Homo sapiens: one gene and its partner. The protein of the gene in region 1 purifies or fractionates together with the protein of each later gene. This does not show direct contact. Each region holds a gene or a part of one and is shown on either strand. Other genes may lie near its edges.

Region 1 (3,818 bases):
GGTTTGTTTAACTTCAGATCCTGTGCTCCTAAAATCTCTCTGCCCAACTATTCCCAACAGAATTATCCCCTTATTTCCTGTTACTGATTCTGTTTGCCCCTAGGCGGCAGAAGAAAACGACTTACCACACCATGGTGGACCTAAAAGACTTGAAAGGCTACAGCCGGATTGGGAAGCCCATCCTGTGTCCTGTTCACCCTGCAGAGGAACTGAGGCTGTTCTGTGAGTTCTGTGACCGGCCCGTGTGCCAGGATTGTGTGGTGGGGGAGCATCGGGAACACCCCTGTGACTTCACCAGCAATGTCATCCACAAGCATGGGGACTCTGTGTGGGAGCTCCTCAAAGGTACTCAGCCCCACGTGGAGGCCCTGGAGGAAGCCCTGGCTCAGATCCACATAATAAACAGTGCCCTCCAGAAGCGAGTGGAGGCAGTGGCAGCTGATGTCCGGACATTCTCGGAGGGCTACATTAAGGCCATTGAGGAGCATCGGGACAAGCTGCTGAAGCAGCTGGAAGACATACGGGCCCAGAAGGAAAATTCCCTGCAGCTGCAGAAGGCCCAGCTGGAACAGTTACTGGCAGACATGCGGACTGGAGTGGAGTTCACCGAGCACTTGCTGACCAGCGGCTCAGACTTGGAGATCCTCATCACCAAGAGGGTGGTGGTAGAACGGCTCAGGAAGCTGAACAAAGTTCAATATAGCACCCGTCCTGGAGTAAATGATAAGATACGCTTCTGTCCTCAGGAGAAAGCAGGCCAGTGCCGTGGCTATGAAATTTATGGTACGATTAATACCAAAGAGGTTGATCCAGCCAAATGTGTCCTACAAGGAGAAGGTAGGAAGGCATTTCCCATTGACATTGAGAGGGCAGTGGACAGGGAGGTGGTGTGTGAAGATTGGTGGCTTGTTCTGCTAGGAAGCATGCCCTACTGACCAGGTTACCAAAGGTGGGGAGATAAACTGATCTGAAAGACAGTGACCCCCACCTTTGCCCTTTCTGGTTTGTTCTGGCTAGGGTACAGTTAATACAGGAGTGAGGCTTGACCCTTTTCCAGTTCAGAGAAGTAATAATGGCTGAGAAACACACAGATCATGTTTTGTTTCTATCAGATGGCAGAACAGAGACAGTGCCCGTTGGAGGTAACAGCAGTGACTAGGGCCAGGTGAAATTCTGCCTGCTCAGAGAGGAGCATGGCAGGCCCTGGATTCCTAGATCAAGTTCTGAAGGGAGTTTCAGAGGAATGAGGAAGATGAGATTACGGTTTCCTTTCCTTTAGGCCCTTTTTGGTTCACATCAACTTTACTGGCATTTAAAAGGATATGGTAGGTGTTTCATTTAATTGGGGGAAAAAATGGTTTTTTTTAACGAGTGTTCCCTTTCTAATGGAAGCATATTATTAAAACATATGTTTCACAGGTCAGTAGGTCAGTCCTGATAGGAAGATTGCATCTTAATGACACAGGCATTCTTAACTGTTTGGAAGCCATAGATCTCTTTGAGAATGTTCTCTCCTACAGAAACACCCAGTAACTTGTGCATACAATTCCAGATTTTTAGACTCTTCATAAGCCTTTCCATAGACCTCATAGTAGTTCATGAACCTCAGGTTAAGAAACCCTGTTTCATCTGAATGCTGGAGTAGGGGCTGTAGCTACTGGATATCCCCCCAGTACCTTGGCATGAGCTACCAAGTTGCAGAGGATCTCAAAACATGGAGGGTCGTGAGGCTGGTCAGCTGTACTCCCTGCCTAGCCCAGCAGGATCTGGAGCTTAGGGAGGGTGGTTTTGGGGTTACTATCCTCTCTCACAGGGTCTAGAGGTTTTCTTTAAATACCTCGGTCAGTCGTGAGTATTTTTAAAGCATAGGACCTTCAGTCCTAGGACTGAAGGTAAGGTCCAGGATCCTGTGTGATCCAAAGCAGCTGCTAGCTGAGAGAACCAGGCCAACCAGGAAGGACTCCCAAGAGGCGTACTCTGGGAGGCAGAAGGGGAAGAGAAAACAAAGGGACCCAGGGTGGTTACAGTAAAGTACAACCCTTTGTTCTGAAGAGAAAAAGCAAGATGGAGATGTAGTCACTGCAGTTTACATTCGAGGTGAGGACCGAGTGTTTATCTTTTTCAGACCTCCACAGAGCCCGGGAGAAACAGACGGCCTCTTTCACCCTGCTTTGTAAGGATGCCGCAGGAGAAATCATGGGCAGGGGAGGAGACAACGTTCAAGTTGCCGTTGTCCCTAAAGATAAGAAAGACAGGTTTGTATGACACAATTAGGTGTCATGGATAACAGGCAGTGAGAAAACTGGAAACATGAGGTCCTTTAAGATATTGGAGCTGGGCACAGTGGCTCATGCCTGTAATCCCAGCACTTTGGGAAGTGGAGGCAGGAGGATCGCTTAAGCCCAAGAGTTCAAGACCAGCCTGGGCAACATAGGGACACCCTGTCTCTACAAAATTAAAAAAAAAAAAATTAGCCGGGAGTGGAGGCATATGCCTATAATCCCAGCTATTCAGGAGGCTGAGATGGGAGGATCCCTTGAGCCCAGGAGGTCGAGGTTGCAGTGAGCTGTGATTGTGCCAGTGCACTCCAGCCTGGGCAACAGAGCAAGACCCCAGGTCCAAAAAAAAAAAAAAGATATTGGAGTGTAACTCACTAGTTACGTCTTACCTCCCCATAATACTATGAAACGTTACGTGACCAAATGTGTTTTCTTGTGTGGGTTTTGTATTCAATTCTCTCTCAAAGCTATGGTCTGCCCCTCAGATTGTTTTCATCTCAAGCTTTAGAATAAGTTGAAAAATATTCTGTGTTAGACTGAATGGTACCCTTTTCAAAATTCAGTCTCCCTTTGGTACTAAATTATGCCTGGAGCATGTTTATATTTCTCTGGAATTGTAGAATGGAGGAGGGACAACAGAGCAAGAGGGTTCAACAGAAGCCTGTTGAAAAGGACACAATAATATATTCAAGGAATTTGTCTGAATATCAGACTAAATTGGAATTTATGCTGTTTACCTTCTGTTGTAAAATTAACTTCTGAAGCAAATGGAAGAAGCATCCTGTTTGGGTATATTTAACATTAATACTGAATGGGATGGTGTAGAGTTTACATTCTGAAATAGTAGCAACTGAAGCCAGCTTGTGGAAGTGAGTGGTGTTTTGACTCTTATCTCCATTCAGCCCAGTCAGAACAATGGTCCAGGATAACAAGGATGGGACATACTACATTTCCTACACCCCCAAGGAACCTGGCGTCTATACTGTGTGGGTCTGCATCAAAGAACAGCATGTGCAGGTAAGACTGGTGCACGTGCTTCCCTGAGCTCCCTGGATTCTACTGTCTTAGGATCTGGAGACATTTCACATAGGATCAGCTATACAGAGAGATTGAATAGAATCCCCATGTCTTCTTCTTCACTTTAGAAACAGCCCAGATTTTGCTACTCTTATTCTTCCTGGAGGATGCTGTTGACCATAAGAACCCTGTATCCCTGTGTCACCTCCAGGCAGTTATGCTTATAGCTTATCATTCTCCCAGTTGGTTTCTTAGGATTCTTAATATGGAGAAGATGTCTTGATCACAGGGGGTGATCTGCCAGCAGACAACCATGCATATTCAAAAAATATAATCTAGCTCAGGATTTTCCAGTTTTGTCCAGACTGTGTCTGGACATGAACACAGTTGAGAGGGTTATGCCCCCTCCTCACAATTGACTAGTCATCTATCTGCCTAACCATCTGCTCATGTAATTTTCTACTCTGTTTTACATATAGGTTTTTCTGTTACTATGGTTCCTATAAACAAACAAATATACCA
Region 2 (3,818 bases), about 95 Mb from region 1:
GAGGCCTGGCCAGAAAGCTAAAATGTGCAGGCCTAAGAGATGAAGTCAGAGAGGAATCAGGAACCTTAATCACAGAGGGCTGAGGAGGCTATCTTAAGGACTCTGGATTTCACAACTGAGTGGGACAAAAAGCCATTGAAGAATTTGGAGCAGAGAAGTGACCTGATAGGGTTTATTTATTTTTTAAGTATCAAGAGAAATGGTGAAAGCAAGACCAGCTTTGAGGCTACTGTGACAGTCCACGTCAAACAATGGTTACCTTATAATTTATAAAGAAATGCTCTAAACAATAGGTAGGCTGCTCCAAAAAGCCTTCCCTGACAATGTACCTCCTCCTCCCCTCCAACTGGACTAGAGACCCCTTCTCCATCCTTCCTCATCACGCTGGTGTTATTCCACATTATACCGCTGACAATCTGCATTGTAACGGGCGCTACACTCCCCTCTCCCTGCCCCCTTCAGGCCACAAGCTATGGGCACACAGGAATCCCAGCTCAGCCACTCGGCATCTGCCACTGTCTGATCCACGGTAGGTGCTTAGTCAGGGTCCTTCTCATGCTTGAACTCGACTTCAAAGCTCAAATAATTTTATGTAAATTCTCTATAACTTTTAATGGCAAAAACCACAATGACTTTTCCACAAGACCTAATATAAAGTCATAGGAGGTTAGCCAGTCTCTTTCAGAAGCTCTCCCAGTAAGCAGTTTACGTCTGTGCACAGAGCTATTCCCAGTCGTCTGTTTGCCTAGAGGTTGTGCATTGTTTTTTAATTTTATTTATTATTATTATTATTTTTGAGACGGAGTCTCACTCTGTTGCCCAGGCTGGAGTGCAGTGGCACAATCTCAGCTCACTGCAAGTTCCACCTCCCAGGTTCACACCATTCTCCTGCCTCAGCCTCCCGAGTAGCTGAGACTCCAGGTGCCCGCCACCACGCCTGGCTAATTTTTTGTATTTTTTAGTACAGATGGGGTTTCACCATGTTAGCCAGGATGGTCTCAATCTCCTGACCTTGTGATCCGCCTGCCTCAGCCTTATTTTTTTTTTGATACTTAACTTTTGTGGGTACACAGTAGGTGTATATATTCACAAGGTACATGTGATGTTGTGCTGCAGGCATGCAATATGAAATAACTGCATCAGGGAGAATGAGAGATCCATCCCCTCCAGCATTTATCCTCTGTGTAATAAATAATCCAAATTACACTGTATTTAAAATGTACAATTAAGTTATTATTGACTTTAGTCACCCTGTTGTGCTATCAAATTGTTTTGTTTTTGAGATATATATCACACCTAATCCAAATGGGGTTTAGGCAGTTCGCAGTGAAAGTCTGCAGGAGAAATGAACTGTGCCCCGCCTTACCTTCTGAGTGCTTCTTCTTGGTGTGATAGGCCAGGGCGGAGGCCTGGGTGAAGGTCATGAGGCAGTGCTTGCACATGAACGGGCGGTCCCCGGTGTGAAGGCGAAGGTGGTTCTTCAGGGTGGAATTGGCTGCAAACTTCGCCCCACACTCTTCACAGGAGAAAGGCTTCTCATCGAAGTGCTCTGTCAGCTTATGGTACTGCATGCCTAGGGAAGCCAAGCACACCAGAGGCCAGAAGAGATGCTACTAATCAGTGTTAGGAATCTAGCACAGGATACCAAGAGCACTGTCTCAGCCCAGGCCTCCAGAGGAAGCACAGCATGAAGCCCAGGGTGCCAGGCCACGCTGGTACCCACTGCACACAGCCACGCTGCTCTCTACCCACCAACTGGCATCCCCAAAGTCACCTGGCCTTACTCCTGGATGGAGCCGGTGGAAAGTAATGCTGGGCTTATCTTCCCCATTCCCTTCTCTCTCTTAAATAGGACCCTGCCACCCAGAACTAGGGAAACTCAACTTGCTTTTATATTTCATTAGGTTTATCCAAATTCTAGGACAAGGGAAACCATTCTGACTGTACATCCCATGATTTCCATGACTCTTGTTTGTTACCAAGAAACAAGTGGCACATGGAAACATGAGCCAGGTATTAAGTAGCTGGTTATCACTGTAAACAGTAAGAGCTGTAAGTTATTGTGTGCTCACTCTGTTACAGGCAGTGCACTGGTGTTTAGCTCTGTTACCTTAAGTCTTCATAACAATGCAACAGAGTAAGTGGTATCAGGGTGCTGCTTTAATAGATTTGGGGAAATCAAAGCTCGGGGGCTGATTCCAAAGCCCATGCTCTTAAAATATTACCCTGCCTCTGTAGGAACCTGCTCTATTTTCTAAGCCCACCCACAGCCCTCACTGCACACAACTAAGGGAAAGGCCTGAAATCCAAGCTATAAAACCCACAATTATCATCCTCTGTTCCTTTGCCTTCTTGAACGTACCTGAGGCATGGGCAAATTCTCTGCCACAGAGGTCACATGTCACTGGAAGCCTCTTCTTCTTCTTCTTGGGGGCATCGGGCTCTCCACCTGCACCATGGGCCTCCAGCTGATGTTTGTCCAGCTCTTTCTTTGAATCCTTGGTCTCACTGCACTCCTTACACTGCACCTGTTTGCTCTTAGCCACCCGGCAGCGCTTCATGTGCACCTTTAGGCGGCAGTAGAAATGGAAGCTTTTGTCGCAGGCCTTACAGATGAAGCTCTTCTTGGCAGGGTCTGGGGAGGCTGAAGCCTCTTTCTCTTGCTGTCCTGGCAAGGAACCAGTCTCTCCTTGATCATTCTGTTCCCCAGGCTGGCTGTCTTCTTTGGCTGCCTTTTCATCTTCTTTGTTGTTGGCTTCAAGGTGAAATTTATTACTCACCTTCCACGTTTCCTTCTCTCCATCTTCCTTAGTAAGGACACCTGCATAAAAGAGACATCTCGTGGCTCTGCGAACTCTCTGTTTCTATTTTGCTTTATAACGTTTCTAACACACTTCTTACAGGAGACTAGAGACTACTTGAGATCCTCAAAAACACTCTGAAGTAATATCATTGTCCTCCTTACTTTCCAATAAACACAAAGAACATTTTCCCCCTATGTCTCATGACTTTTTTAGGTATTCAGAGCATATAAAATGAATACGTAACTTAAGGTTGTGATAAACTATGATATGAAATGCTGTCTCTTTCTTCAAGAAACAACCTGGTGTGCTGATAGGAACCCCCTTCCCACCTGGCCCGTTCCTTACCAATGTATGCCAACTCCTGCATGACAGGCTGCAGGCCTGGAAAAGATTTGTGGACACTGCACAGGAGGTGGCATATTTCAATGGCCGGGACTGATTTTTCCATGGCTCTGCTCAGCACTGCTCTCAGGGAAGCTTCAGGGCTGGCTGTCTCAGAGGGAATGCTCAGAATCTAAATGAATACCAGGAGACAAAGGTGTGGGGTTAATCTCAGCAGATTTTCCCCATGGTTTTCAACCTAAAAAAAAAAAAAAAAAGCTAATCCCAGGAAGGCACTGCTCCATTTATAAGCAGTTTATACATCGCCTTGTGATAAATGTAGTGGACAGCTCTGTTTGCCAAAGAACAGGAAAACTAACAAAACAGAAAAAAAGAAGCATGTATCCAGATAAATGTGCAAATACAAAGAAGATACATGCAGGGAAGCATAAAGCATTTTCTATAAGAAATAGCTTATCAGAAACTAGGAGTCTCCCAAAGACCTTTTCTGGATCTTAATACTAAAAGCTTGAAAAGCTATAGGATTTGGTCGTCGGTGTGTCTGTCTTGAAAATCAGAATAAGTTTTCATAATATATAATTGTCTCAATGTCTGGAAGTAATTCTGCATGATCAGTGGCTTCATATTTTTAGATACTTAGATGTACCCATTTAAACGTCATTTTCTTTCACA

The links.
Region 2: the proteins of TRIM45 (region 1) and ZBTB40 purify together in Homo sapiens (affinity purification with mass spectrometry; one large-scale study listed by BioGRID and IntAct). This does not show direct contact.

Annotation. Positions count from the first base shown.
Region 1 is NC_000001.11:117,115,053-117,118,870, reverse strand, and holds part of TRIM45 (E3 ubiquitin-protein ligase TRIM45), read left to right. Parts: intron 1-103; coding exon 104-837; intron 838-2,125; coding exon 2,126-2,255; intron 2,256-3,181; coding exon 3,182-3,296; intron 3,297-3,818. UniProt on the Homo sapiens protein: E3 ubiquitin-protein ligase that plays a role in the regulation of inflammatory response.
Region 2 is NC_000001.11:22,510,679-22,514,496, reverse strand, and holds part of ZBTB40 (zinc finger and BTB domain-containing protein 40), read right to left. Parts: intron 3,319-3,818; coding exon 3,150-3,318; intron 2,822-3,149; coding exon 2,363-2,821; intron 1,574-2,362; coding exon 1,367-1,573; intron 1-1,366. UniProt on the Homo sapiens protein: May be involved in transcriptional regulation.